Homo sapiens: one gene and its partners. The main gene of each other region encodes a partner of the protein of the gene in region 3 in a complex. Each region holds a gene or a part of one and is shown on either strand. Other genes may lie near its edges.

What was found.
Region 1: B9D1 (region 3) and TMEM231 share a complex: the UniProt entries of both Homo sapiens proteins name them as parts of the tectonic-like complex.
Region 2: B9D1 (region 3) and TMEM17 share a complex: the UniProt entries of both Homo sapiens proteins name them as parts of the tectonic-like complex.
Region 4: B9D1 (region 3) and TMEM237 share a complex: the UniProt entries of both Homo sapiens proteins name them as parts of the tectonic-like complex.

What each region holds. Positions count from the first base shown.
Region 1 is NC_000016.10:75,539,073-75,546,940, reverse strand, and holds part of TMEM231 (transmembrane protein 231), read left to right. Parts: intron 1-863; exon of another isoform or gene 864-986; coding exon 987-1,115; intron 1,116-1,445; coding exon 1,446-1,589; intron 1,590-4,257; coding exon 4,258-4,339; intron 4,340-5,485; coding exon 5,486-5,591; intron 5,592-6,766; coding exon 6,767-6,947; 3' UTR 6,948-7,868. UniProt on the Homo sapiens protein: Transmembrane component of the tectonic-like complex, a complex localized at the transition zone of primary cilia and acting as a barrier that prevents diffusion of transmembrane proteins between the cilia and plasma membranes.
Region 2 is NC_000002.12:62,502,541-62,510,434, reverse strand, and holds the start of TMEM17 (transmembrane protein 17), read left to right. Parts: upstream 1-4,239; 5' UTR 4,240-4,305; coding exon 4,306-4,405; intron 4,406-7,640; coding exon 7,641-7,744; intron 7,745-7,884; coding exon 7,885-7,894. UniProt on the Homo sapiens protein: Transmembrane component of the tectonic-like complex, a complex localized at the transition zone of primary cilia and acting as a barrier that prevents diffusion of transmembrane proteins between the cilia and plasma membranes.
Region 3 is NC_000017.11:19,345,108-19,352,975, reverse strand, and holds part of B9D1 (B9 domain-containing protein 1), read left to right. Parts: intron 1-5,095; coding exon 5,096-5,192; intron 5,193-5,644; coding exon 5,645-5,707; intron 5,708-5,779; coding exon of another isoform or gene 5,780-5,837; exon of another isoform or gene 5,838-6,026; intron 6,027-7,868. UniProt on the Homo sapiens protein: Component of the tectonic-like complex, a complex localized at the transition zone of primary cilia and acting as a barrier that prevents diffusion of transmembrane proteins between the cilia and plasma membranes.
Region 4 is NC_000002.12:201,626,504-201,634,371, forward strand, and holds part of TMEM237 (transmembrane protein 237), read right to left. Parts: intron 6,929-7,868; coding exon 6,808-6,928; intron 5,706-6,807; coding exon 5,548-5,705; intron 3,350-5,547; coding exon 3,226-3,349; intron 2,919-3,225; coding exon 2,727-2,918; intron 1,647-2,726; coding exon 1,573-1,646; intron 912-1,572; coding exon 818-911; intron 1-817. UniProt on the Homo sapiens protein: Component of the transition zone in primary cilia. Required for ciliogenesis.

The DNA of each region.
Region 1 (7,868 bases), on a different chromosome or scaffold from region 3:
CATGCCCGTAATTTATCAAATAGATATGGTTTTAATACTTTGCTGATTTGACATAGCTTCCTTTTTCATTTCATTGATTGCTACTAAAAGATGCACAAGGCTTTCAGGTCCTCACACGAATGATGAGATAAGATCCAACATCAAGAATCTGAAGCAAAGACACTCGTGGTTTCAGAATCTATAAACAGAGTTTGGTAAGGCCGGGTGCGGTGGCTCACGCCTATAATCCTAGCACTTTGGGAGCCTGAGGTGGGCGGATCACCCGAGGTCAGGAGTTCAAGATCAGCCTGGCCAACATGGTGAGACCCAGTCTCTACTAAAAATAAAAAAATTAGCTGGGCATGGTGGTGGGCACTTGTAATCCCAGCTCCTCAGGAGGCTGAGGCAGGACAATTCCTTGACCCTGGGAGGCGGAGGTTGTAGTGAGCCGTGATTGCGTCACTGCACTCCAGCCTGGGCGATAGAGTTAGACCCCGGCTCAAAAAAAAACAAAAAAAAATAGAGCTTGGTGATTTTCTGTTGAGTTTGAGTTTGTTGGAGGAATGCATAATGATTAGGATTAGGTGTTTTTCTATTTTAACAAGTTGACTTCTAGAGACATAGAAGACTATTCTGACATGCTACTTAAAATTTCCATACAAATTCAGGCATATTTGTAAAAAAGAAAAAAATATCAGTGCAAAATAAGCAAGATCACATGAGACAACTGAAAGGCACAAATACTATCCAGATGTTTTTTGTTATTGCCCATTTATTTTGGCCAGTGAACATTTGAAAGGCCCAGATATGAAGTTCAGGGACCATGCACTTTGTGTCTCTCCCCAGTATTAATGCACTTACATCTATCTGCTTTTCTCTTTTAGTGGAGGAGATAATGCCTGTTGTGTACAGCAAGACAGTGGGTCATTGTGTATTTACAGAAGTGATGTGGATTCCTCCCAGACTCATTAGTGACCAGGGCTGCTGGGCCTGTTTGGGTTTCCTAGACTAGAGAAGAAGACAGGAACCAGGATGGGAAGACGGACATGTTACATTTTAAGCTGGAGCTTCCCCTGCAGTCCACGGAGCACGTTCTCGGTGTGCAGCTCATCCTGACTTTCTCCTATCGATTACACGTGAGTCAGTCCGCTGGGAGGCTGTCCTCTCCCTTGTGTCTTTTTAGTAGACCAGAGTCCTTCTTCTGATTTCTAGAAGACCCGCACTCTAGCGGGCCCTCTTCCCCATGTAGTTTGGGATTTAACTTAGGCCAATGGAATGGTTTTCACTAGTCATATTAACTGACATGGGCTATTAATAGCTCAGAAGGTTCTAGGCAGTGTTTCCTGCATGGCTACGCTAGGTATGTGAGGGCCTCTTAGGTTTCAGCCAAGACAGGTGACTCTTAGCACCCAGAGCCCTTCAGATCTGATGGCGGTTGGTATTGTTGGTCCTTCTAATGATTTCAGAGGATGGCGACCCTCGTGATGCAGAGCATGGCGTTTCTCCAGTCCTCCTTTCCTGTCCCGGGATCCCAGTTATACGTGAACGGAGACCTGAGGCTGCAGCAGAAGCAGCCGCTGAGCTGTGGTGGCCTAGATGCCCGATACAACGTAAGAGCGCTTCTCATTGTCCAGCTCCTTTGTTTCTCTGTGTTACTGTTCATTAAGTTCTTTAAAGAGGGGAATGAAAAGTAGAAATGTCAGGCCAGGCGCAGTGGCTCATACCTGTAATCCCAGCACTTTGGGAGGCGGAGATGTGCGGATGGATCACTTGAGGTCCGGAGTTTGAAACCAGTCTGGCCAACCTGGTGAAACCCTGTCTCTACTAAAAATACAAAAAATTAGCCAGGCGTGTGGTGCGTGCCTGTAATCCTAGCTACTTGGGAGACTGAGGCAGGAGAATTGCTTGAACCCAGGAGGTGGAGGTTACAGTGAGCTGAGATCTCGCCACTGCACTCCAGCCTGGGCAACAGAGCAAGACTCTGTCTCAAAAAAAAAAAAAAAAAAAAAAAAGAAAAAGAAAAGAAAAGTAGAAATATCATTTCTTTGTGGGTGGCACCAAAGAGGGTCTCTGTAGAATTCTTGCCATGAATTTTTTCAAACTACAGAGAAGGTACACGCATAGTTACACCTAGAAGGGAAGAGAAACAAAATCTGTGTTTGTCGAAGAACTAAATTGCTTATTGCTTTTAGGTCCACGTGGGTGCACACACACACATTGTGTCTTCCATACACACGCTTGGTCACACGCAGGATGTACTCCGAAGGACACTGTAAAATGATGATGTAAAATGTTCATGTAAAGTATTTCAGAAATATTACTAGCCATAGTTTACTGAACTCATAACATATGCCACCCCTGAGTGCAGGCGTTTACCTATATCATCTCCTTTAATCATCATGGCAACCTCTGAGCTGCCTGCATTGTCCTTTCCCCGCACTCCAGCCACTTGTCCCATCACTGCCCCCGCTTGCTCCCTTCCAGCCCCCCTGGCCTTTTTGCTGTTCCTCAAACCCAAGAAGCAGCTGCCACCTCAGGGCTTTTGCTTTTGCCATTTCCTCTGCCAGGCATCCATGTGGCTTATCGGACCATGCCATTCAGGTCCCTGTTCAGATATCCCCAAGCCCAGTCCTTCTCTGACCTGCTTCTACAGTAGCAGCCCCTCCTTCCACCATTCCTCAGCCAGACTCTCCCTCCTGCCGCCTGGCCTACTCAGGATATGTGTTTGTGTGTTTATTTGCTGTCTCCCTCAGCCTTGACAGCAGTGGCATCTCAAATACTATCACATCCGTGCCTAGCACACTGCCTGGCAGATGGTAAGCTCACAGAGATACTTGTTTAAATAATGAACTCATTTTGCAGAAGACGTAACTGGGGCTTAAAGTGATTAATTTTCCCAAAGGCTCAAATCTTGAAAGATAACAGAGCCTGTCTGTGTGCAGAACTCATGCATCTAATCACTCATTCCTCACTTTTATTTTATCACAATGGGGACCATAGAAGTTGAGCTGAGGTACTTCTGAAAATGAAAAAGGGATGTTATCGGTTATTACAGCCATAAACCCAGACTTGTAGATATATAGTGGGTTTTACTGTTGCTCTGACTATAATCAATATAAGTTGTAAAGAATAGGAAGCTGCAACATATGAAATGAATATGGCACTTTTTGTTTGAATGTCTATATATCAGATTACATTAACAGCAAGCAATTATTTCCTCCTTTAAGGGATTATATGCTTATGGTTTGCATTTTATCTATATCTCTATATTTAAAAGTGATAAAGAACTTAGCACCCAGAAAAGACCAAGAAAATGACAAAGGAGTTGGAAGTATGGTTTCTTTTTTTTGTCTTTGTGTAGGGGTTTTTATTTGTATTTTATTTTTATTTTTGAGACAGAGTCTTGCTCTGTCACCCAGGCTACAGTGGAGTGGCATGATCTCGGCTCACTGCAACCTCTGTCTCCCAGGCTTAAGAGATCCTCTGATTTCAGCCTCCTGAATAGCTGGGATTACAGCCATATGCCACCACGCCTGGCTAATTTTTGTTTTCTTTGTAGTAGAGATGGGGTTTCACCATGTTGGCCAGACTGGTCTCGAACTCCTGGTCTCAAGTGATCCATCTGCCTGGGCTTCCCAAAGTGTTGGGATTAGAGGCGTGAGCTTCCATGCCTGGCTTTTTATTTTTTTTTATTTTTATTTTTTTTTGAGAGATGAAGTCTTTCTCTGTTTCCTAAACTGGAGTGTAGTGAGTGGCATGATCATCATTGACTACGGCCTTGAACTCATGGCCTCAAGTGGTCCTCCTGCCTCAGCCTCCCAAGTCACTGGGATTGTAGGCATGAGCCACCACACCTGGCGAAAATACGGTCTGTTAAAATAATTTAAGGAATTCTTTCTCCCGCTGAGATAAAGAGGGGTATTTTAAAAATAGCTTTAAAACCTGTAAAACATGGACACTGACCCCTTATTTCCATCCACAGAAAGAAAGACTGAGAGTAAATGGGCTTAAATTGTTGCAAGAGAGTTTATTCATCTTTGAAGAGAAGATTATTGATACTGCAGTAGGCCACCAAGAACAAGAGGGTGCTCTGTGGGACCAGCCTGGGTGGGCAGCAGCCTGTTTTATTCATCTTTGAAGAAAAGATTATTGATACTGCAGTAGGCCACCAAGAACAAGAGGGTGCTCTGTGGGACCAGCCTGGGTGGGCAGAAGGGTAGAAGGAAAAGGGGAGGAGTCTCCCAGGTGCTCACACCACATCCTCCTCCCGTGTCCCAGATATCCGTGATCAACGGGACCAGCCCCTTTGCCTATGACTACGACCTCACCCATATTGTTGCTGCCTACCAGGAGAGGAACGGTGAGTCACAGGTAGAGCCCATTCAGCCGCTGCTCAGGACTTTCAAGGTTAGTGGGGGCAACAGAGACAAGCAGAACTGGAACCCTTGTGATGAAAATGTCAAAACCCGTGAATGCTCAACGATGGGAGCAAATATGCTGTCCAGGATTTGTCTTTTTCGTCCTGATCTTCAGACCTGGGACCGCCCCCACCCCTCCAGCATCCCATGGTCCAGCAGGCTAGTGATGGTTAAATGCCATCATTATCCCACCACTGGCTTAGTGGGTTTCTCTTTTAAAAAATATAAGCCTAATTGAGTTGTTCCCCATACCACACCTATCCACACCTATAACAGATGCCAAAGACAAATTGCTGTTCATGCTTTTCAGAGAAAAACAGAGAACGTGGGTGACTCTCCCCACATTAGCAGTCCAGCAGGAGAACAGGAGTGCCCCTGTTTCCTGCCAGAAGGCACAGTGTGCTTATTCCTTACAGAGCTCTAGGCCATGGCATGTGTGGACTCGGCACGTTTGTCTGGTCGGTGGCTGAGGTTTTCTCTAAAAGCATCTACAGTGTTACTTGGCAAGCAGACATCATGGAGACTATACACAGACGTCTCACAAGGGGGATGACTGCAAATCCAGTATTGCTTACTGATTTTATGGCATATACTAGTGGCATTATTGCAATAATAGAGGGAATTTTAAAACAAAAGTAGAAAACATTGCCCTACAAATCAACTATTTTTTCATTCCTTTCATTCTTTAGCCTTCTGCAGATCTTTTTATACAGCCATTGTAGTGTAGAAACACATTGGGATCCAAGTTACTTTTATTTATTTAAACTTGGAATATAAATACTTCCCCACACAGCTACAAAGCTGTGATACTACTTTTAGTGGCAGTATAGTATTCCTTCAGTTAGCCATTCAGCACATGTAGAAGAAACTCTTTCCAAGTTTTTTATGTATTTTAACAAAAGTATTTTGACTATTATTTTAACAAATAATGTGTGATCAGCTTTGCACATGCAATTTCTCTTTCCTTCCGAATGATTTCTTTCAGTTCTGAAGCACAGGATAATTTCCAGGTATCAAATAATCTTTATAGCCTTCAACTGCCAGAGTCAAACAGCCATCGTGGTTAATGGTTAATGATTGCATTGCAGTTACCACCGTCCTGAATGATCCCAACCCCATCTGGCTGGTGGGCAGGGCCGCAGATGCTCCATTTGTGATTAATGCTATCATCCGATACCCTGTGGAAGTCATTTCATATCCTTTCTGTTAAAGAGTCCATGTTAAGGCTGGATGTGGTGGCTCCTGCCTATAATTTCAGCACTTTGGGAGGCCAAGGTGGGAGGATCATTTGAACCCAGGAGTTCACAACCAGCCTGGCCAAGATAGTGAGTCCCTGTCTCTACCAAAAAAAAAAAAAAAAAAATTAGCCAGGCATAGTGGCGTACATGTGTAGTCCCAGTTACTTGGGATGCCGAGGCAGGAGGATTGCTTGAGTCCAGGAATTCAAGCTTGCAGTGAGCGATGATTGTGCCACTGTACTCCAGCCTCGGTGACAGAGTGAGACCCTGCCTCTTAAAGCAAACAACAATTTAAAAAAAATCAATGGTAGCTCAGTTTTCAAAGAGGAATGATTCCTTAGTTGTCTCAAGTAGTAACAGACGTGGGAGGTTTTCTCTTGGAAATCATGACAGGGTTATAGCCTCATAAAAATGGCTGCGTCTTTGACATCTTAGGCTACATGTCTCAGAAAATGACTGTATGTCTGCTATTCATATAGGAACAAATAATTCATGTCTTGGTCCTATTTGTTTCCAAGCAATTCTTCTAGGTAAGAATCATCCATATTTATGTCTTAATAATCATATGATATCCCTTTTATGCTAAGGTTATGTGAAACATTCTTGCCAGTCCCTGTCTGACCTAAACTTTGGTTTAATTTTGACTTAGGTCGACTAATGGAAAATGAAACCAACACCAACACTGCAGAGAAGCAAACAAAAGAGAAGGCATTTTAACTGGGGTCTTAGGAATTACAATTCCAGAGACACAAACCTAGGAAGCAGCTAAATTGTGTTCCGTACAGGTGCAATTAGGCAGGGGCTAAGGGTGTTCCAAGTTTACACAACTGGAAGATTTTAGAAGATGGATGGATGGCTGGTTAACAGCTCAGGATATCTCTAGTCCATGATCAATCTAGTTTGGCATAGTTGTCTGTTTAGGAGGTTGGTCATCAGGCTTGGTATATAAATAGCTCAAATCAAATGTGGCTGGTTTTACCATTTGGCCAAGTTCAGGTCAGCTTCCATCTGGGTGTGTACATGACAGAGGTCCTGCCTCCTTTCGAGATACCTCTGCCACAGCCAATTCCATCTTGGATTTTCTCTTCATACTTAACACCATGTGGCCCTTCACTCCTTAACTGTCCATACTTATCAGCCAGGATTCTGGGAGATGGTAAAGTTCGCCTGGGTGCAGTATGTCAGCATCCTGCTTATCTTCCTCTGGGTGTTTGAAAGAATCAAGATCTTCGTGTTTCAGAATCAGGTGGTGACCACCATTCCTGTGACAGTGACGCCCCGGGGAGACTTGTGTAAGGAGCACTTATCCTAGAAAGGCCATTTCTGAAGACTCAGCAGGACCGTGGCTGCCTCATTGTCATCTTCTGGGAACATCTTAGGACCTTTTGAAAGAGCCCAGCGGACACCTGCGGGCTTGTGTGCTTTTCCCTCAGAGACAACGGTTCTTTCCGGTTTTGCTCTACACAGTTCCGTATCTTCAGAGCTCCTGCAGAATTGTCAGGGACTAGTTTGTGGAAAGGTCTGAGAGTTCCTGGAGGCTATAATTAGCTTTTTGGGTTTTCCTTCTTTGCCTTAGCGTTGAATTTCAGGAGAAAATTGCAGTCAGTTCAGACATCTTGGAAAGAGTCCCATCTCTGGTCAAGCAGAGACTTTTCCTCTGTTGAACTGAGGAACACACTGTGCATTTCTACCTTCTGTTGTGAGCCACTCTTACTCTTTTCAGGGCTCTCTTGTGACAAACATGCCAATCACTAGCACTTTGCACCCCTGGGCTTCTCCATTTCCCATTCACAGCTTTGATTTCCAGAGCTGAGGCCTTTAACTGGAGACCTGGAGGGGCAGGGCCCAAGGGCAAGGGCCGCATTAGCACAGGCAATCAGGGAGGGCCGCTGAAGGACACTTGGACCGTCCACCTGCCCCAGCCCAACAGTCAGTCATCTGTCATCAGCTCAGCTGAGCAGCCCTGGATCTTTGCCGTACTGTGACTGGGCTCTTTGCCCTATTTTTCCCTCTGTCTGTGCCCCTGGATGGCAGGCTGAAGTCAGAGGGGCTGTTTCATTCTCAGCCCCCTCAGCAGCACTGGGGGAAGAAAGCATTGTCACAACAGGTTCTTTCTGGCCCTCACCCAACAGCCTGGGCACTTGGCCCTCCTCCTCCTTGACAGCCCTCCCCCTTCCTGCAAAGGACAGGGGCGACAGGGGTTGGTGTTGGGATTGGCTCCCGCTGCCTGACA
Region 2 (7,894 bases), on a different chromosome or scaffold from region 3:
ACCATATTGGGCAGGTTAGTTTCGGACTCCTGACCTTGTGATCAGCCCGCCTTGGCCTCCCAAAGTGTTGGGATTACAGGTGTGAGCCACCGTGCCTGGCCCATACTTCTTTCTTTAGATCCTAAGTAAGTAGTAGGTCTAGAAGATGGGAAACCCAAATCATACAATTCTTCATTTTTCATGAATGTGGATGCCCACCTGTATAGGCAATCACATTAGTGAAACACTGAAGGATCTCCTTTAGTATTTCTAATGTAATTGCCTATAAATATTGGGAGTATCAACTAATAAGATAACATTTGGAAAGTTTTTTTGAGCCCCTTGGACCATTTATGATACATCAATAATGGCAGGACTCATTCCAAACCACATTTTTTTTCCTCTCAAATTATCTTCTCTAATGTTTTTGCATCATCATTGCCTCTTCCTCTCAATTTATTTTTAACAAGATTTTTTTCTAACTAGAAAATGTACGCTCATATAGGAAATTTGAATAATAAAATTAGAAGGAAAAATACCCATAATTCTATCACTTTTTTTCCTCCAGGATTTTGATAACATAATTACAATCTGAAGAAGGTATCTTGCATCTTTTTTCAATGCCAGGGGAAAATATCTTTAAAATAATTCACTTAGGTTTTTGATAAGAATTCACATAGGTTTTTGGTTAACATAATGGAGTGCTTTAATGCTTAACTGCCTCCACTGTCTTTATTAGGAAAGCAACAGAGGTATTACCTAGCAGGTCCAGTTGAATTTACAAAATTAAATACCAGCATTATTTGACTCCACTCTAGGTGTTGTTTCTTCATAAACTTCATTTTAATTGATGTGTAAATGGTAGCTATCATGTATAGAGAGCCTTAATGATATAATATCACATCAACCACAACAGTAAGATATCATTATTTTTACTTTACAAAACGAGTATCTGAAATCAGTCACACAGCTGTTAAGTGGTACATCGAGAATTTTAGGGTATTTGAACCCTGCCCTCTCAGCTTCCAAGGACATTCTTTCTACTGCAGCCCAACACCTTGCCATAAATATCGTAATCTGCTTAATGAGGCCCTGTGGTTGGGCACTTCAAATGCCCATTCCCCTCTTTTCTAAACAATTATCAATAATGTTGGAGAAGCATTTGGTGTATAAAACTTTGTTTCTATGATTATTTTCCTTTAATAGAGCACGCCTTAAGATTTTATCGTGTTAAAGGAGGCAGGAACGTTTTAAAGGCTATTTCTATACATTGCCGATTACTTGTCTCAATGCGGTTGGCCAAATTATAATTCAACAGCTGAGCCTGAGGCCTCCTGCTTCACTGTTCCGTTTATAAAAAATCTCGGTTCATTTGATAAATGAAAAGTGATTCTCTGTTGCTAAGGTTTTTTAAATTGTTATGATTCACTATGTTTTAATACACCAATTCACCATTTTACAAAGTGAACCTTTTAAAGGGCTAGCTAAGTCCTTGAACTAGAAGGGGAAGACAAGAGAGTGGTCATTAGGCTTTTTCTTCCTTTTACTCACTCAACAGTCATCCAGCTCCTACTCATGGCCAGGTACCACACTGTGCTAGTGTTGGGGATATAAAGATGAAAGTCCATTCTTGACCTCTAAGAGCTTGAGGACTAGCAAGAGACACAGACACATAAACAGACAATTTTAGTATAGAGTGACCAGCACTGTGACCAAAGAAACAAGAGGAAGATGCTTTGGGAAACACAGAAGAGAGCACCTAAGCTATTTCAGGAAGGTCCTAGAAGCCTTTTTGGAGATTCTCAGGTCTGAACTCCATCTTGAAATGAAGCAGAAGTTAACCAGCTTTTCCCTGACATCCTCAACCCGAATTAATTGCTTCTTTAATAATTAAAAGACGTGGTCCTTTAATAGAGCACGTCTAATAACAGTGTTTGCACTTACTTGTTTCCATGTCTCTCTTTCACTGAGCTGTGCTTCTTGATGAGGAGGGACCATATCCCTAATTAGCCTAGCACGATATCCAAATAAGCAGTAGGAATGCAATAAACGTTTGTGTAATTATTTTAAAATTCTAGTCATGAACTTATTTCCACCCATATCTTCTTCTTGCATTTATATAAATGTGTAATTTTCCTTTTGATTGTAAAAATAATACTTTTACCACACACCCATCAGAAGGGCTAAAAGGAAAGGATAAGAAATAACAAGTGTTGGTGAAGTATATGGAGTAATGGAAATATTCACACATTGCTGGAGGCAGCAGAAATTGGTTTGATCACTTTGGAAAACTGTAGGCAGCCTCTACTAAAGCTGGGTCTTTCGTATCCTATGACACGGCAATTCCACTCTCGATATACACTCAACAAAAATGCATGCATATGTTCACCAAGAGGCATCTTTTCCCCAAAGCAGCACTATACACAACAGCTCCAAACTAGAAAATACAGACACTCATCAACAGTAGAATGAGTAAGCTTATTGTGGTATGATCACAAAGAGCAAGGCAAAAGAATCTACACTCAATGACATGAAGGAATTTCATGAAAGTAATGTTGAAGACAAAGCCAGTTTTTTAAAAAAGTACTTACAGTATGATTGCTTTTATATAAATATGCAAAACAGAAGCAAGATGACAAAGGGAGTGTCATCATCTAGAAAGTGGTGCGATAAGATGCACAGCTAGTGCTGCCCTGTGACTCTAACTCCTTCAAAAGTCCGCCTGTGGCAAACGCGGCTACCCTCCCAAGCCAAGATAAAGTATAATTGGAGTGCCGAGGCTAAAAAATATACCAGTGGGACTGGTCGAATGAGGCACTTAAAAATTGTGTACAGCAGGTTAAGGCATGGATTTTTTAAAGGAATGCCACCTAAACCCAAGAGGACAGCTGCTGCAGCATCCAGTTCATCTTAAGAATTTCAGGCCAGGTACGGTGGCTCACACCTGTAATCCCAGCACTTTGGGAGGCCAAGGCGGGTGGATCACTTGAGGTCAGGAGTTCGAGACCAGCCTGGCCAACATGGCGAAACCCTGTCTCTACTAAAAATACAATAATTAGCCGAGTGTGGTGGCGGGCACCTGTAATCCCAGCCACTCGGTAGGCTGAGGCAGGAGAATCACTTGAACCCAGGAGGCGGAGGTTGCAGTGAGCCGAGATTGTGCCATTGCACTCCAGCCTGGGTGACAGAGCAAGATTCTGTCTAAAAAAAAAAAAAAAAAAAAAAATTTTAGATTAGTCACACAATAAATGTTCTGATTTAAAAAAAAAAAGGCAAAACTCTCCTTTGCTGTTAGAATTCAGGAAAGGTCAGTTATGAGTGAGGAGTGGGTTTAGTGACTGAAAGGAAATAGGAAGGGGGAGTTTCTGGGAATATTGTAAAGTTTCTTGAACAGGGTGCTGATTACACATACAGATTTCAGTCTATGTATATATATTACACTTATTTCTTAAGTAATATATATTACTTACAAAAGGTGTACAATTTTTCTGTATGTGTATTACACTTAGTTTTTTTTAAGTAATATATCTTGAGAGAAAGCTAGAAAATAAGACGTTTAAAAATTTTTGAATCACCTACAATCCCACTATCCAGTGAAAACGACTGTTAACATTTTGGACTTTTTTCCAGTTCTTTTTTTCAAGCCAGTGTGCACACGCTCTCTCCTCCCCTCCACTCATACACATAAATTTTGCTAAATTAGGTTCATTCTCATTTAGTTTTATTTCTGCTGTATTTTTACATAAAGTTAAACTATACCATTCAATATCCTTTGCAAGCATTTTATAAGCAGCTGAAACATACTCCATTGAATGTATGTGCTCCAGTACATTTAATCAGTTGCCCATTGCTGTTTTCTTATTAAAAAATAATCAGTCACATGATGTCTCTCTCTCTCACACACACCCCTACACCTCTAGACATTCTTTAAGCTCTGCATTCGTTCTCTATTTCTCTCCAGAAAGGTTGTACCGATTTACAGTTCCACTGGCAAATGTGAGGGCTCCTTGTATCGCAGTCCAACCCCAGCTCATTTCTTAGTATAGGTTTGTTTTTAGGATGGTCGAGCTCAAAGCAGAACTAAGGGATCTGCCGTTTTGTACACGGCCGAGGCGCGCGGCTCCCTGGGCCTGGAACGCGCTCTGAGCGCGCCGGTCCCTTCCAGGTTGCGCGGGCTCCGGACGAGACCCAGCCCAGCCGGGCAGCCCCGCGCGCTCCCGGGTCCCGCCGGCCTCGCGCCGCCCGGTTGCCGTGGGAACCACGGAGCCTCGGAGCGCCCGCAGACTAGCCCGTGTCTGAGGGGGTGAGGGATACTGAGGCCCAGGCATGGAGCTGCCGGATCCGGTGCGCCAGCGGCTGGGAAACTTCAGCCGGGCCGTGTTCAGTGATTCCAATCGGACCGGTCCAGAGTCCAATGAGGGTCCGGGTGAGTGACCGAGGCCCGGTGCAGGGGGTGTGGCCTGCCGAGGGCTTGGCGTGGATTTTGGAGCGTCCAGAATTTGCCCGTACCTAAAATGGCGATGTCGCCTTCAGCCAGTTCTCCGCAGTGCGGGAGAGCGCCTTGGAGGAGGGGCCGGGCCGGACAGGGAGCTGAGGCGCTGGCGGCCTCCCGCCCCCGGCCGGGCCTGGTCTCCGCGTGGTGCTCCCTGGCCAGCTTGTTGCAAGCGCGGCAGCTGACGTGGGGCCGATCTCTGTGCCGCGCAAGGCCCATCATTGTCCCGGAGAAACCCCAAAAATAAAAAGATAAAAGCCGCCCTTGCTGCACAGGCTGGTCCCCCGCGCGCCGCGAGAGCGAAGGCCCAAGTTGTTTTGCCTCTGCGGCGCCCGCCCCGGCTTTTCTGTCCAGGATGACGAGGAATAGCCCAAGCAATCCCACCTCCCCCGTCCCCACCCCCACCCCAGGGAACAAATTTGCCTTTTCCCTTTTCCTAGCAGAACAAGTATGTTCCTAAGCAAGGCCATTTTCTCGTAGAAGACATTAAAAAAAAAAGTTAATGAGTCCTTTCAAACCACCATCCACTCCCACTGGCATGTGCCATACTAGCCGGGCGTTCAACAAAACTCACCCCTTCCCTGCCTTCTCCTCCTCCCCTATATGTAACTCTTATCATAAGGTAACAAAATACCATGATGCTTCTGCGTCCTTTAACTTGATGTCAAGTGATAACACAGTTTCCTCCAGAACAGTTTCCTCCTCCTACATCATGATGGTAGACAACACACTGTCAACCAAACCCATGTGGTTTTCATCATTCAACTCTGCTGGGAAATATCAATCTTTTCCTCTGCTTGGTTTTAGAGAATTTTTAAAAGGGACAGAGAAAAGTAAAGGCAGTTCCCAAAGCTGCATTTTGTCACCTTGATCACTTGCCTATTTCCCAAATGTAGGCCTTTATGATTTAGGATGTACAGAGAAAAATGTGAAAAAAATAGGTTTTCACGTTTCTGGTTCCAAGGATGAGGCTTAATGAGCACTAACGTCTGATAATACAAGGTAAAAAGACGTTTTCTGAAAAGGACCAGATAGTAAATATTTTAGACTTTGTAGGCCATATGGTCTCCACGGCAGCCATTGACAATAGTTATTGAATAGGCAGGGCTGTGTTCCAATAAAACTTTATGGACACTGAAATTTGTATTTCATATGGATTTCACGTGTGGAAAAAATATTACTTTTTTAACCATTTAAACGTGAAAAAACATTTTTAGCTCATTGACTGTACAAAAACAGGCAGCTGGCCAGTTGTTTACCTATCCCTGATTTATATTGTATGTTTTAATTTAAATTCCATTTACAGAACTCAACTTGAACTTTTGCAAAATTTAGTAAGTTTATGTCTTACGCTTTTAAGGTTCATTTACATATTAATTTGATTTTCATTTCCATGATTATAAGTTTGATCTGCTGAAATATGGACATAGCATAACCTTTAAGATGTTAACACACAATACTTCTAACATGAAAACCATTCTTTGCAAAATTTGACTACAGTTTCTTCTCAAAGGTACTGAAATGTTCAGCTTGCCCAATTTATTATTCTTTCCCAAATTTTCTTCTTTGTGGATTGGAAGTAGGTTTGATTATTTGTACTGTAATAACAAGTTTATGTCATTACCATGTCCGCAGCTTTGTACTGTTGCTATCGAAAAGATCCTAGGCTGGTGAGTTGTCTTCAGATTTAACAGATTTTAAGAATTCATTCCTTTATCAGTGGTAATTTAATAAACAGTTGCAAGCAAAAGTAGATCATAATAATCAGGCATATTCTTGGAGCTAAAAGAAACTATTTTGCTGTGAGAGACCATGACTATTTCTTATATTTTAAAATAATTAAGTGACAGATAAAAACACTCAGCTATGGAGAAAAGGAGAAAATAATGTTTTTAAGACATTTATTTTAGAGCCTTTAAAATCTTACGTGTACAGCAACTGATTTCAATATATGTGTCTGCTCTTAAGAATTTAGTCAAATTTAGGATGTATTTTGTAGGGCTCAATTTTAAAAATCAAATTCTTAATCTAGGACCCTGCTCTCTTACATAAAAGCAGAAAGTGTTATGGAATCAACCTTAGGTAAATGGAACTCATGTATCACAAATGGCTATGCTAGTAATGTCCTTATGACAGTATACTTTCATTAATTCATTCTTATGTGTATTTGATATTCACTGCGTGGAAAGCAAGATGCTAGATTCTATGAGGGTCTCAAATTAGGGTAGGACATGGTGTGTGCTTGCAATGAGCCTGTAGATAAGTAGAAGAGAAGAAGGAAAGAGGACTAATATTTGTTGAGTGCCTACTAAGTGTGCCAGGCACAGTGCTAGGATGAAATAATTTATATTGGCTCTAATTCTCACAAACAGCCTGTGAGGAAGTTTTAATTTCACTATTTTACAGATGAAGAAATAGAAGCTCAAAGAGTTTAAATAATTCATGTCAAGTCTGACATCCAGGGTCACAGAGGTTTGGGGAGCTCGGATTTGCTTGAACTCTGAAGCCCATGATCTGTTCAGTACACCAGACTGTTTTTTGGGGAGGGGAGTGTGGTTCTTTGCTAGCACTTCTTATTGACAGTTTAGAGTGGTAAGTACCTAAAGGGGAAAGGTATTTCTGCTGAGGTGGGGGAACTGATGAAGGAAGTATTGATGGAAAAGATGACACTGAATTGGACTTTAAAGAATGGCTAAGATTAGGGTATGCTGAAAAGAGAGATGTGTCTAATTATAACCTTGGTAATCCGTTTTTGTATAAGATTAGTTTATCTGTGGGAGATTCATTTTTATTTATTTTATGCATTAATTTTATATGCTATTTACATAGAATTCTACAAAAGAGGCAATGATAATTATCTGTTGAATAGGATTTATGTTGATATTCTACATTAAATCTATACCAGTAGTATATGCCAAAAAGTCAGAAGACTGTAATGGCAAAATGGTAAAATAATTGAAAAATATGAAACGTACCCCCAAATAGCCAATATTTGACCTAACTGGTATTAGGATGAATATTCCTTTTACTGTCAATGATTATAAATAGGCATAAAATTTGGTGTTTTACTGAGCCAATATTATAGTTATTAATTCTAGGGAATAGGATATATATATATAGGGCATAAACCCAAGATTCATCATTTGTTCCTTTTCTGTTCCTTCTGTAGAAAATGAAATGGTCTCCAGTTTGGCACTGCAGATGTCACTTTATTTTAATACCTACTATTTCCCACTGTGGTGGGTGAGCAGCATTATGATGCTTCACATGAAGGTAAATCTAAGCTTTAATACTTTTGCTGCCCTGACGTTGTTAGAGTGTCAATAAAATTCAAGTTCTTAATAATTTTTTCTATCTTAAATCAATGTTACTATACATGAGATTTTACAAACATGTTTTGGCTTTTCTTTTAGTATTCAATCT
Region 3 (7,868 bases):
TAAAAGAAGGCTGTGTGTGGTGGCTCACGCCTGTAATCCCAGCACTTTCGGAGGCCAAAACGGGTGGATCACCTGATGTCAGGAGTTCGAGACCAGCCTGGCCAACATGGTGAAACCCCATCTCTACTAAAAATATTAAAAATTAGCCAGGCATAGGCTGGGCGCAGTGGCTCATGCCTGTAATCCCAGTACTTTGGGAGGCCAAGGCGGGCGGATCCCCTGAGGTCGGGAGTTCGAGACCAGCCTGGCCAACATGGAGAAACCCTGTCTCTACTAAAAATACAAAATTAGCCAGGCATGGTGGCACGTACCTGTAATTCCAGCTACTCGGGAGGCTGAGGCAGGACAATCACTTGAACCCGGGAGGTGGAGGTTGCAGTGAGCCAAGATCATGCCATTGCACTCCAGCCTGGGCAACAAGAGCGAAACTCCGTCTCAAAAAAAAAAAAAAAAAAAAAAAATTAGCCAGGCCCGTGGCAGGTGCCTATAATCCCAGCTAATGGGGAGGCTGAGTGAGGCAGGAGAATCACTTGATCCTGGGGGGCAGAGGTTGCAGTCAGCTGAGATTGTGCCACTTCACTCCGGTCTGGGCGAAAGAGTGAAACTCAATCTCAAAAAAAAAAAGAAATTAGTAAAAGAATAGCAAGTTAAACCCAAAGAAAGCAGAATAGAATGAGAAACAGCAGAAATTAATTCATTAAACAGAAAGCACACTTACAACAGAAGAGATGAAAGAGGCAAAAGTTGGTTTTTAAAACTGAAAACCCCAAGTTAAGACGATGAAAAAACAGGCTAAGTGGGGTCACTCACACCTATAATCCCAACACTTTGGGAGGCTGAGGCGGTAGGATCGCTTGAGCCCAGGAGTTCAAGACTAACCTGGGCAACATGGTGAGACCCTGTCTCTACAAAAAATAGAAAAATTGGCCAGGCACAGTGGCTCAAACCTGTAGTCCCAGCTACTCGGGAGGCTGAGGTGGGAGGATTGTTTGAGCCTAGGAGTTTGGGGGTGTAGTGAGCTATGATCATGCTACTGCACTCCAGCCTGGGTGCCAGCGCTAGACCCTATCTCTAAAAAATAATAAGAAGAAACAGAAGACAGAAATGGCAGGAATGAAAAAGGAACATGTTACAGATCTTGCAGACAGTAAAAAGATAAGATATAAAGAACAGCCATTTGCTATACATTTGGCAAGGTAGATGAAATGGTCAGATTCCTAGAAAAAGATAACTACCAAAACTGCAAAAAAGGAATAAGAATCTGAGTAGTCCTATGTCTATTAAATTGAATCTATAATTAAAAATGTTCTCACAAAGAAAGTTCCAAGTCCGAGTGTCTTCATCACTGAGTTCCACCAGGCATTTAAAGAATGACACCTTCCATGGCAGAAGTGTAAGAAAAAAAAGAAGAGGAAGTAACGACAGATTTACACAAACTCCTAGAATTGAAAAGATTAAACATTCCCCAGCTTTTTTAGGTCAGCATAGTTTTGATTCTAAAGCCTGCTGAGGACATTAAAAAGAAGAAACTCCTTCATGAACAGAGTTGCAAAACTCCCAAACAAAATATTCAGAAACTGAATTCAAAACTCCTAAATGAAATATTCAGAAACTAGCAAGATAAAAAAAGGATAATATAATACATCATGAGAAGTAGGGTTTATTCCAAAAATACAAAGGTTTTATGACATCTATAGTTGGCCAGGCACAGTGGCTCATATGGAGGCCGAGGTGGGAAGATTGCTTGAGGCCAGGAGTTTGAGACTAACCTGGGCAACGTAGCAAGACCCTGTCTCTAAATAATTCACCACATTAAAAAGAAGAAAAGTCAGAGTCAGGCCAGGCACCATGGCTCACACCTGTAATCCCAGCACTTTGGGAGGCCGAGGCAGGCAGATCATTTGAGGTCAGGAATTTGAGACCAGCCTGGCCAACATGGTGAAACTCCTTCTCTACTAAAAATACAAAAATTAGCCGGGTTTGGTGGCGCACGCCTGTGATCCCAGCTACTTGGAAAGCTGAGGCAGGAGAATCGCTTGAAACTGGGAGGCAGAGGTTCCAGTGAGCCAAGATTGCACCACTGCACTCCAGCCTGAGTGACAGAGCAAGACTCCATCTCAAAAAAAAAAAGAAAAAAAAAATCATGATCATCCCCATAAATGAAGAAAACACATGGTAAAATTCAACTCCCATTCATGATAAAAGCTTAGTAAACTAGGAATAGAAGGAAGCTTCCCTAACCTGATCAAGATTATCTATGAAAAGCTTAGAGCAAACATCACTTTTACTGGTGAAATGTTGAAAGATTTTTTCTGCAACCTCGGCCTCCTGGATTCAAGCGATTCTGGTGCCTCAGCCTTCCAAGTAGCTGGGATTACAGGCATGCACCACCATGCCCGGCTAATTTTTGTTTTTGTTTTTGTTTTTATTTTTGAGATGGAGTCTTGCTCTGTCTCCCAGGCTGGAGTGCAGTGGCACGATCTCAGCTCACTGCAACCTCTGCCTCCTGGGTTCAAGCAATTCTGCCTCAGCCTCCGGAGTAGCTGGGACTACAGGCACATGCGACCACACCCAGCCAATTTTTGTATTTTTAGTAGAGATGGGGTTTCACCATGTTGGCCAGGCTGTTCTTGAACTCCCATCCTCAGATGATCCACCTGCCTCAGCCTCCCAAAGTGCTGGGATTACAGGTGTGAGCCACCGCGCCTCGCCTAATTTTTGGATTTTTCATAGAGAAGGGGTTTTGCCACGTTACCCAGGCTGGTCTTGAACTCCTGGCCTCAAGTGATCTGCCACCTCAGCCTCCCAAAGTGCTGGGATTACAGGCATGAGCCACTGCTCCCAGCCTGGTCTTTTTTTTTTTTGAGACAGAATTTCGCTCTGTCGCCCAGGCTGGAGTGCAGTGGCGTGATCTCAGCTCACTGCAAGCTCCGCCTCCCGGGTTCACGCCATTCTCCTGCCTCAGCCTCCTGAGTGGCTGGGACTACAGGCGCCCGCCAGCCTGGTCTTTTTAATAAATGGTGCTGGGACAATTTGATATACATAGGAAAAAACTTCAGCCTGTCCTCATACACACAAGTCAATTTCAGATGGATATGTAGCATAGAGGACTATAGCCATGATATCAGGGTAAGGGAAGATTTTCTGGCAGGACTCCATGAAGGAGAAGATCAATGAAGTTGACTATATTAAAATTAAGGGCTTATGTTCATTCAAAGACATCACTAAAAATGAAAAGATAAGTCACAGGATAAACACACATATACACACTATAAATCAATAAGAAAAAGGCCAGGCCAGGCAAGGTGACTCACACCTGTAATCCCTGCACTTCGGGAGGCTGAGGCAGGAAGATTGCTTGAGCCCAAGAGTTTGAGACTAGCCTGGGCAACATAGTGAGACCCCATCTCTACAAAAAATTTAAAAATTAGGCATGGCAGCACACGCCTATAGTCCCAGCTACTTGGGAGGCTGAGGTGGGAGGATCACTTCAGCCCAGGAGGTTGAGGTTGCAGTGAGCCATGATTGCACCACTGCACTCCAGCCTGGGCAACAGAGCAAGACCCTGTCTCAAAAAAAAAAAATGTTTTTAATGAAGAAAAAAGAAAAAGACCATCAAGTAGAAAACCGGGCAAGAGACTTGAGTAGGTTCTTCACAAAAGAGGACATCCAGGTGACCAAGAAACAGGTAAAGGTCTCAACCTTATTTCAGTAAGAAAAATCTAAAATGAAGGAAAATATAAGTTAAAGCTACAGTGAGCTACCACTATTCTCTCACTAGGACGGCTCAAATTTAAAAGATTGGTAATGCCATGTTTTCGTGAGGTACAGAGGAGCAGGAATCAGATACCACTGCTGGGGGAGTGCTGGCTGATAGGACCATGCTGGCAGCTTGGTGTTACCTTTTGGGAGGGAACATACATGGGCCCTGTGCAGTGTCATTCTTGGGTGTGTGCCCACCAGAGATGTGTGCACGCGAGTACCGAGAGCCTGCGCCATGGTGCTCAGCACTGGGTGCGTGGCCCCCAGAGGAAGGGCAGCCCATGTGTCCATCAGCACTAGAATGAACAGTCATTGTGACAGATTCCCACGCAGAATGTTATATGGTATTGAACATGAACACGCCCCTTTACAGGAAACCATTTGAGAAAATCTAATGGACATAATTTTGGATTAGAGTCTGGGCACAAAAATAAATGTACTGTATAATTCCTTTTGTATAAACTTTCAAAAACATTGGTAAAGGTAAAGTACCAGGTTTGGGATGCATTCTTTGGCAGTGAAGTCTTAAAGAAAAGTAAAGAGGTAGTTTCCTAAAATTCAGAATAATGGTTACCTTTGGTGGAAGGTAGTAATGGGAAGGGCACAAACCTCTCCCTAACATTTACTGAGCACTCACTATGCATTAGGTACTATTTCATGTGTTTTAGAGATGATGAAACAGGGGCAGAGAGGTTGGCTAACTTGCCTCAGTCGTGGCTGCAGGATCAGAGCCTGTCAGGCCGGCTCCTAGTCCCTCCCTGGGCCTCACCTGAAACTGGCGAGGTGAAAGTGCCTCATGCGCCTCAATGGCAACACGAAGCGGGTGTAAAAACAGCCACACCTATTATAGTACCTATAATATTTTAAAGGAAAATGCCCAGAAGGTTTTTCTTTTCTCTCTGACTTCTAGACACCCCCAAAATGAGCCCCTGCCACCTCAGTCCCATGAGCCCGCCTCCATCAGGAAGGGAGCACCCAGAGAGCAGAGGTCCTTAGTCGGCCCTGATCATAGCTGGGGCCCTGGGCCCAGATAAGGCCTCTGGAAGTGCCTCCTTGTACATGGAGTGACTGAGTGGGCACTGACTCCATAGCGGTGAGAAGGGGTGTGGAATGTGTGCCCAGGCCTCAGTGGAGACACAGGAAGTACCAGGGTGGGCAGAAGTCTTTGGCACAGTCTGGGTTCCCATGCCTGCTCCTGTCCCCTCTCAAGCCTGCCACCCCAGAGTTTTGAGCTCCATCCTTTGAGCACCCTCAGCTGGACACGCCCTGTTCTCTGCCCTGCACCTCCCCTGTGTGTCCTCATGTGCCCACCCCCTGCCTTGTCCTTCCCAAGGGCCACAGATCGTGCTCAGCGTGTATGGACCAGATGTGTTCGGGAACGATGTGGTTCGAGGCTATGGGGCCGTGCACGTGCCCTTCTCACCTGGCCGGTAGGTCCTCATTCTGACCTGGGCCCTGGGCAGGACTTGTCCTAGGACAGACTTCACCTCGTTTTCTGTCTTAGGTTCAGGCTGGGAATGCTCTGGGGTCTCCAGGGGCCTGGGCAGCTCAGCCTGGTGGCCAGGGGGGTTGTAGCCTGTATTTGGGAGGAGAACCTTTCAGATGGGTGGTGCCAGCCACACACCAGGTGGGTTGGGGAGGTAGTGGGACCCAGAAAAGAAAAGACCCTGAGGGACTCTGACCTCCATGAGGCTGTCTCCTGGCGCTCAGCACCTTGCCCAGACACAGGGGGTGCTCAGTTAGCACAGGTTGGATTCGTTGACATTGGCCCTGACTTGGCCCACGCTGCAGCTGCACTGGCCTGATCTGAGGGTTTCTTCTCCCTGGAGGCTCAGAAAGGTCTCTTACTCAGCATCTCTGTCTGCAAAAACATTTGTTTCAGGCACAAAAGGACCATCCCCATGTTTGTCCCAGAATCTACGTCTAAACTGCAGAAGTTTACAAGGTGAGTTTTGTACCCATAACCCCAGCCCCTCCTGATCTACTGGATGAATGGATGTCCCATTCTACCCCTCAGTTTGTGCCTGGTCGCCTCCTCAGATCTGCAAGCTGCTCCACCCACTGAGGACAAATAGAAACAGGTCCCCTGGGAGTGCTGAGTCACGGGGCTCCCTTCAGCCCTGTTCCAGCAGCAGAAGGCCGGGCGATTTTACCCTGTGCCCTGTGAAAAATCTTTGTGTCTGAGGGAGCAGAGGAAAAACTCTTGTCAGATGGGAAAAATGCTCATGACATAATGTGACATTAAAAGGTGGGAAACAAGAGGATATAGCAGTATGAGTCAGACACCTTGGAACAGTAATCATGATAAATGCCTTTACATGTGGGAGTCTCTGGCCGGAGCTGACATTTGCGCAGAGGCTTAGTGTGGAGGGAAGAGCCGGGGAAGAACATCAGGCACAGGGAACAGTGCCTGCCAGGCTGAGGAGAGCGTGAGCTTAGCATGCTAGAGAAGCCAGGACGGTGGTGTGGCCAGGACGGCAGTGTGGCCAGTAAGTGGTAAGCCAGGCAGAATGAGGGAGACATCAGGGAGGCAGGCAGGGGCCAGGACACAAGGGCCTGCAGGGAGGGCCCAGGGGATGCCTGGATGCAGCCCCAGCATGAAGGCCTCTTACCCCTGCTCACATCCAAGTGGGAGCTTAGAGGGCCAGCTGGGCCCTGGCCTTCTGACTCGAGGACCATTAGCGCAGTTGGGCAGCAAGCCTCTGCCGCCCACCGGCAGATTAGTGAGGCACAAGTGGAACATGGAGGACTCCCTGGGTTCCAGGGCAGCAGCCGGCAAGCAGCCCCTGCGAGCCTGGCCAGTACTGGGCGTGAGACCAGGCCAGAGCCCTGCTGGGTGGAGGGACAGCATCGCGCCCAGGGCCGAGAATGCTTCACTGAGCTCTGAGAGCCGTGGAGGGGAGGAAGGGCAGGGTCTCCGCTGGCCTCAGCCTGAGAATTTGTGTGCCTACTGCCCCTAGGAGTCCTTCTGGGAGGCCACCCTGTAGCAAAGGACTTCTTTCCCAGATGACCTGGGCCAGTATCACCTGGAGGTGACAATCCCCATGCCACAGGCTGTCAGGGAGGCAGCGAGGCAGTGCCCATCAGTGGGTTGGGAAAGCCTAAGAGACTGGGGACCCACACAGCCATCCAGGCTGGGTTATTCACCCTGTTCCACCGCCCACAGCTCCAAGGAGGACTTTGGGCCTCCAGGGGACAGCTCGCTGAGGAAAGGGTTTCACAGCCCCTGTGGAGGGGCTCGCAACTGGGCAAGGCAGTATGTGCTTGGATTACAAAAACTGGAGAAAGTTCTGATTAGTGAAGGCAGTTTGATTGGCAGAATCTTCCCAGATATGGAGGCTCCTTGCTCAGGCTGACACCTCGGTCATCCCCACCCCTCTCCCAGCCTCTCCCCACATCCTCCAGCGCTGGCCTAGGGCCTGCCCCAAACACTCTTGGCCACTGTATTCGTTTCCCACGGTGGCTGCTGCAACAAAACACACAAATGTGATAGCTGAAAACAGCAGAAATGTATGCTGAAGGCCAGAGTTCAAAATCCAGGTCACTGGGCCCAGAAAAGGCACCACAGGGCTGTGCTCCCTCCCAAGGCTCTAGGGGAGACTCTGTTTATTGCCCTTTCAGTTTCTGGTGGCCCCAGCCTTCCTTGGCTTGTGGCCTCATCACTCGAGTCCTGGCCTTTAGGGTCCACCTGGATAGTCGCCTCAAGATCCTTAGCCTAATCATATCTGTGCAAAGTGCACGTGACCCTGTTTCTCAATAAGGTCACGTGCACGGTTTCCCAGGACTAGGATCTGCTATCTTTGAGGGGCCGTCATTCAGCCTGCTGCCACCCCTCCAGTCTAGTCTTCACATAGCAAGAAAAACGGTGTTCCTAAAACACAACTGGGGCTGCACCCCTCCCCTGCTAGAACCTGTCTCTGTCAGAATGAACTTCAACCAGAATGCTGCCAGGCCGGTGGTCGGGCCCTGCCTACCTCATGGCCTCTGCCCACTTGCTTCCCATCTACCTCAGTTCCTGCAGTCTGAGGGGTCCTTCCTTGCCTCAGGTCCTTGCCTGGAATGCTCTCCCAGAACAGCCTGTCTTGTCTCCCCAACCCCAGCCAGCT
Region 4 (7,868 bases), on a different chromosome or scaffold from region 3:
TACTTTTGGATGCTACGTGCAGCATTTGGGGAAAAAAAAAAAAAAAAAAAAAAAAGACTGCTTCTCTAAGTTTTATGAACTATAATCTCAGCCATCCTGTCAGCTTCATGGCTGGCCGCTGATCTGCAGATGTTGGCTCTCCCTGTTCCGCTCTTTCTAGCATTGCTTGGTTTTCTGAATCTATCCCAGCTACTCACTCCCATCACTGTTCTGGGATATGAAACTCCCTGACAGGGGGTAAGAATGCAGGGCTCCTTCCGTCCATCATATGATGACTTATTTTAGAACTATAACTTGGCTGGGCGCAGTGGCTCATGCCTATAATCCCAACAATATGGGAGGCCAAGGCGGGTGGATCACCTGAGGTCAGAAGTTCAAGACCAGCCTGGCCAACATGGTGAAGCCCATTTCTACAAAAATACAAAAATTAGCCAGGCATGATGGCGGGTGCCTGTAATCCCAGCTACTCAGGAGGCTAAGACTGCAGAATCGCTTGAACCCAGGAGGCGGTGGCTGCAGTGAGCCGAGATAGTGCCATTGCACTCCAGCATGGGTGACACAGCGAGACTCTATCTCGAAAAAAAAAAAAACTATAACTTGAAGATCTAAAACAGATTTTTAAAAGGAAGATATTTCATTAAAAATGCAGGTGGACATAACAATAGTTACCCATTAACCAAAGGAATAAGTATTTTCTTGCCATATATTTGGAAACAAAAACAGAGCCTTCATTATTTGCAGTTGAAAAAGAATGGAAGGATAAGAAAAGTTGCTGTTATTGCCATTAACAATTGCTAATGTCATTGTGAATTCTTACCAGAGGCTACCATTAACAGAAGAAGGTGTGTAAAGGTGGATTCTGTCACTTGTCATTTGCTGACTCAGAGATAGTATAAGAGCAGTAAAGTACACTGAGAAAAAGACAAATGAAATTACTAATAATTTTTAACAACCTGGTTTATTTTGAATTTATAGATTAATATCGAAAATAATCTATACTTTCATGACTGATGATATAAAAGAAATTTATTTGACCAAATAAATATATTTCAATAGGCCAGACATCCTTATATAAATTTTTGAGAACAATAGGTGCAGAAGGATCTTTTGAGACGTTCACTATTTCATCATTAGAACTGACAAGAACCTAGAACATCTTTTTAAAAGTTAAATGACTTGCTCAAGGTCCTAAAACTAGTTTTATTAATATTCTCAAAACTTAGAACAAAATGCATTCCAAATGATCAGAAAGATATAAAATATTGTTTGTTATTAAAAGGCCATACCCGCTGAATCTGTTTAATGTCAAGTAGAAAATACAAAAGTTAAAAAGTAAGTAATATAGTACAATAAATTAAGCTTTTCAAAGTTATTTAGATGAACCTCAATTGAAAAAATAATTCTATCAATATTATGCCTTTTATGTTTCTAATTACAAATTCACTGAACATCTATAGGTAATGTTTATAAGGAGCAGTAATACAACTTTTAAAAAAAATTATATTTATCCTGGTTCAAAATTATGGTATAACTGAAGTATTACACAGTTATCATGTTAAACTGCTTACTCACAGAAAGATGCTAAAGCTGTAGGATCCAGGGCCAAAAAATTTCGGATTGCTACTGATATTTTAGCAAAGTCAATCCTAGAAAATATAAAAGTTTCTTGTCACAGCGCAGTTGTAAACTTAACAAAACTTTACTTTCTTGACTATAGTTTTTTCCTTCTCTAGTCTAATGCTAGCACATATACTATTACTAGGTTTTAAGTAGCTACAGTGTATACTTAACACGCATGACAAAATTATCTAATTTACAAAGGCCACATAAAACATCTAACTAGACTACTTTGGACAACATTCCTTTGGGGTTAAAACATCCTAAAGAAAATTAAACTTGATCTATAAAATTTCATTAGTTTCTACCTCTTTCTATTACCCATATCATTGGGCTCTAACTCGGTGGATTTTTTTTAAAAGGGGCTAAATTGTGTTCCCAAAAAGATATGTTGAACTCCTAACCTGGAGTACTTATGAATGTGACCTTATTTGGAAGCAGGGTCTTTGCAGATGTAATAAAGATAAGATAAGGTCATTAGGATGAACCCTAATCCAGTATGACTGCTGTCCTTATTAGAATAGACACAGATACAGAGATACACAGGGGGAAAGTGCTGCATGACGATAGAGGCAAATATTGGAATGATGCATCTACAGCCAAGGAATGCCAAGGACTGTCAGCAACCACTGAAGTGAGGGGAAGGTCATGAAACAGACTCTCCCTCAGAGCCCTGGAAAAAGGAATCAACCCTGGCCACATCCTGATTGCAGACTGCTCGCCTCCAGACCCATAAGAGAATAAATGTGCTGTTTTCAGCCAGCCAGTGTGTGGTACTTTGTTACAGCAGTGCTAGGAGACAAATACAAATGCTCTGAGTTTCACCTATACCTGATTTAGATGACATTTAGGAACTTCTGAGTTGACTATATTTGGATGAAATTTTGGACTTATGAATTGATGCTGGAATGGGTGAAGTCTTTTGGGAATATTTTGTTTACAATGGTCTCATCCCCTCAAAAAAGAACAGAAGTAGACTGGCCTTAAAACTTTTTGAAGTAACATTGATACTCTATAATTCTATTTTGAAAACTATCATGGTCAGTGACACATTTTGCTCAGCATTTCCTCCTGAAGAAGTTAGACAGATCTGGAGTCATAGGCATTACCTGTCAAAAGCTGAAATTGTACTCAGAGCCAAAAGCAAGTACAGAAGACTCTGGAATGGATACGCTAGGGTCTTGTATTGTTGCAGAAGGTTTGAGAGGTTGGATAGCTGATCTCCTGCTAGAACATATATCACAACAATATTCCACACAGCACAGCCAGCCAAGAATCCATGAGAAAAGAGACCAATCATCCTGAATGGAAAAGGGTTTGATTATTATACATGAATTACTAAAGTAAAAAGCTAAAACATGTTTAAAATCTCTTCATATACAAGAATAAAATTCAACATTTCATGACAAGTAAAAGCAAGCTCTTTCTTTTTAGTTACACTGATAGGTAGATCACTCAATTCCAATAGGATGTTTAAAAAATATACCTACCTACCATTTTAAGTTGTGATTTCATTAATAATACTGAACAACCAAGAGGTTATTTTTTTCTTTAATTACAGAACTCAGTTAACATTTATTTTAAGAAAAGTCCAACAAAAGCAGCCACCTGAAAGCCCGGTGCACTGTAAGTGCCACATCTCTGGTGGTCCAGGAAGGCTTCACGTCCATTGACACATCTATGTTTTCTGTGGTCTTTATCAACTCTGAACGATCAGCAGCCTGGAATCTCCCTAAGAACACATAACGTAATTACTAACAACTAGCGAGAGAGAACCCTGGTAGCCATTTTTTTTTTTAAATTCCATACTCAGGAAGCCGCAAACTAAGACTGAAATATTGCTGTTCTATCTGAAAATTCTCCTTGACTCAGTACCTATTTCAGAAGGATCTTTTCTTGGGGTTCCTTAAACATAATTTTTCATCTTGAAGAAAAATAAGCGATGTCAGTGTATTTTCTTCTCAATCCAAAGTGAAGTAACAATTTCAGAAATCAATTATATTTAATAAAAAAAAATGAACTTTCAACTCAGAATAAAGTCTAGAAATCTTTAACATGACCTAGTCTACAAAATTCTAATTTAGAGACTTTAGAAGTATTAAAGTTTATATGCCTATACTATCAAGGTAAGTCAATATTTGAAAACTACTTTAAATTTCTTAGGAAAAGATGTCAGGATGTGTAGCATGGCTTTCTGGGATGACAGGAAAGAAATAGGCTGCTTCATAAATTTCTCTTTAGAACATTCCTGTGAAGAACATCAGTTCAAAAGTCAGCACTGCAATATTGTATGAGCAGGGCTTTAGCCTTTTTACTGTTGATTCAGAGGCTCCTTCTTGTATATCTAGTAATCCACAAATAGACCTCAGGAAACAGGAAAGGTTCCATTTCAATTATCCTCACCAAACCCAGTTCGCAGGTGTTTTGGAGGATGAAAGACAGGGGTGTGACAATTTTCCCTAAGAAAAGACAACTTCTGGGCAGACAATAGAACCACTGGTACCTTTTATGGCCAGTTACTCTAGCAGGGAAATTTCTATGCTAAGTGAAGCAAGAATAAAAATGAGGATTAAGTGATACTGCTTGAAAAAGAACTGCGGTAATTTAAATGACCACGTGGTAGATGAATAAAACCATGTGACTAGAAGTCATAAAACCACAGTTCAAGTCCCAGTTCCACCCTAACCAAACTGTGAGACACTGGGTAAGTCAGCCTCTCTAGACCACAGGTTTCTTATTGGCCAAGAACTGCAAGATCCCTTAAATGGGATCTTCTGAAGTAGGGTTCTAAAACAAGGTACACAAAATCTAAATTGTAAATTTTAAGGACTAACCTTTATGTTTCAGATGAGTTCTTTAGGCAGCATATGCTTAACATATCCATGGTAGTATATAGTCATGATCATGCTTTGAGTAGGTTTTTCTTAAACACTGTGTTATAGACGGAATGCGTCCCCCAAAAATTCATATGTTGAAGCCCTAACCCCCCAGTGAGTGCGAGGTCACTGGGAGGTAATTAGATTTCGATGAAGTCATGAGGATAAAGCTCCCATGATGAGATTATAATCCTTTTAAGAAGAAGAAGACACACCAGAGCTCTCTCTGCCACATGACGACACAGTGGCAGCTGTCGGCAAGCCAGGAAGGGGCCTTCTCCAGTAACCTAATCTGCTGGAACCTTGTCTTGCACTTCCTAGCTTTAGGAACTATGAGAAATAAATGTCCGTGGTTTAAGCCACTTAGTCGGTGGTATTTTGTTATAGCAGCCTGAGCTAAAATACACTGCAAACCTAGTATACATTATACAATGTCACAACTATCTTGCAAAAGAATATACAGCTATAATGTTGTATTTCTTATTTAATATGGTAGTATCATCATGTATTTTCTCTTATTGTCAATTGTAGAATTTATATTATTATCTGTCCCACCACAACTACTACCAATTGCAGCAAACTGGTAAAGTACAAGAAAGAATAAAGAATCAGGCAGGGGTGGGGAAGATCTTTACATTGCCCATAACCCCATAAATCCAGAAACAACCAGCATTAATATTTGAGCCTATTTCCTTCAAGTCTTTTGTCCTATGCATAGATCAAACTGTGTGTGTGTGTGTGCACATGTGTATATGCTCATTTTTTATCAGAATCTTTCCATAAAATGAAAAATTCTCCCTAAACATTATGTTTAATGGTGAAGAACATTATTATATAGATACACCACAACTTACTGACATTATTCCTCTCCTATTTCACATTTAGGTTGTTTCCAGTTTTTCACTCTCATGAATCATAGCATGATGACCAGTTTTGTGTATAAATTGTTGTACACAGTTTTGCTTAATTCCTTAATTCAGATTTCCAGAAGTATAAAGGATATCCTTGGACAATTTTTAAAGAGTTCATATTCTAAAACAAGGCATCTACTTACGGCTTTTTTCCACAAATACTTTGCCTACAGGCTGGCTAATGCCAGTGGGTGCAGTGAATACAGACTGCTGTTCCACAGTAGTTTGCTCATCAGTGATTATGTCTTCATCTTCTACTCCTAGCTCATTGGCATACTGTAATTCTGCTGGCTGGGTTTTCCTGTAATAAGGACGTATGTATGAAAAATAGATGATTATTGAATTTTTTACAGACTTACATAAGGAACTAGCTATAAATATAATGGAAAGGGCCCTGGACTTGGAGTTAAGAAATGTGGTTTTTACTCAAATAAATCGGTTATTAACTATTATGTGCAGCAAGTTACTTACATTTCTGAGGGCTTCAGTTTTCTCATTTGAAAATTGAAGTGACTGAACTAGATCTGTAAGCTTCTTTCCAAATTTAAAACTGTATGATTCTGTATAGATACTGATAAGGTTTGGCTATGTCCCCACCCAAAATCTCATCTTGAATTGTAATAATCCCCACCTGTCAAGGGACTGTTCTGGTGATAGTGAGTTCTCAGGAGATCTGATCGTTTTGTAAGGGGCTTCCCCCTTCACTCAGCTCTAATTCTTCTCCTTCCTGCTGCCCTGTGAAGAAGGGTGTGTTTGCTTCACCTTCCACCATGATAGTAAGTTTCCTGAGGCACCCCCAAGTCATGCTGAACTGTGAGTCAATTAAACCTCTTTCCTTTATAAATTATCCAGTCTCGGGTATGTCTTTATTAGTAGTGTGAGAACGGACTAACACAGACATTGATCACTATTTGTAGGTTCATTTTCAAATACAAATAATAGTGCTATATATATGACTTCCAGTGTTATTTCTTTAAAGTACACTACTCATTTTATCTTAATGCTAAAACCCAGTTTTACTTATTCCTAAAATAATCATAATTTGAATTCTGTTAACATAAGAAAATAAATCACAATAGCCTATTTCATTATCTTTAATTTTTAAATATCCTTAATGTTTAATTTTGCTACTTATATATTCTATTTGTGTTCTTCTTTTTTAGAGATGGCTCTTAAGTTTTTTTATTTAAGTACAATCTTAATTTTTTTTATTTTCTCAGTGGTTTACTCTTCTGAAATTTATCATTCGATTGGTTTAACTGATTTTTTGTAATAATACTTATCCTAGAGGTACACAAATACAAGTATGTAATAAGACTTAATGAGAAGCTACTGCTTCGGAGCTCCAAACAAAGCATCAGGGTAATCCTGGAGAATAGTTAGAAGAATAAATAAATTCCTACTTTGTCTTCCTCCGAGGTTTTTGAATAACTGCCTCCTCAGCTGGCTCCGCATCAATACCATTTTCATTTCGTAATAAAGATGAACTAGATGACTTCTTTTGGGTGGAGGAAGTCTCCAATTCTGAAAACAAAATAAATTTAACTTTTCAAATAACTAAAACATAAAAAGAAAAGTAATGTACAAGACTTGTATAAGAGAAAAGAACTTCAAGAATTTTAATTGGGCAAAAATGTTTTCACTATCTTACAAATTTTTAATTTTTTAAAAATGTTATACTTCTAAACTCTCAATGTAAAAATTGAAATTGTAATGCCAAACAATATGGAAAAAAATTAAGTAACCCAATACCCAGGCTGTGCTGAAGATTCCCAAGATTATCTCCTGGTTCGCTGACTTTCTAGAAGGGCTCACAGGACTTGGAAATCATCACACTCACAATTATGGTTTACTACAGCAAATGGATATAAAGCAAAATCAGCAAAAGGAAAAAGTACATGGACCAAGTCCAGAGGAAACCAAGTACAAGCTTCCAAGAGTCCTCTATCAGTGGAGTCAAATAGGATGTACTAACATTACTGGAGAGTAATGAGTTGTGACAACACATGTGACACATGTTGTACAAAAGAAGCTCATCAGAGACAGTGCCCAAGGTTAGGGGCTAGTCACATAAGCCTAGCACATACCAAAATTCTGGATGCCCGGAAGGGAAACAGATGTTCAGCAAAAATCACTATGTGTGCACAAATGCACCGTGAGTCACCTTATAATTTAGGGAAAGTTTTCTATCAGTGTAGGGAGCTGTTTATCATCCAAGTTCCCAGATGCCAGCTAACGGCCAATCTTATCAGCAGGCTTTTCCAAGGATAGCAGTCTCAGGTCTGCTATATTAACTCTTTTCTGCACACAGGGTAGGTATTAAGTTTAAATGAGTCAGTGAAGCCTTCTTCTAATCCACTAGCTACTCTTCCTACCTGGAAATACTAGCTCCCTGGAATACCTTCAAGACCTTACAATTCTATTGTAATAAAATACTTACAGCCTCGACTGGAAATATAATGCA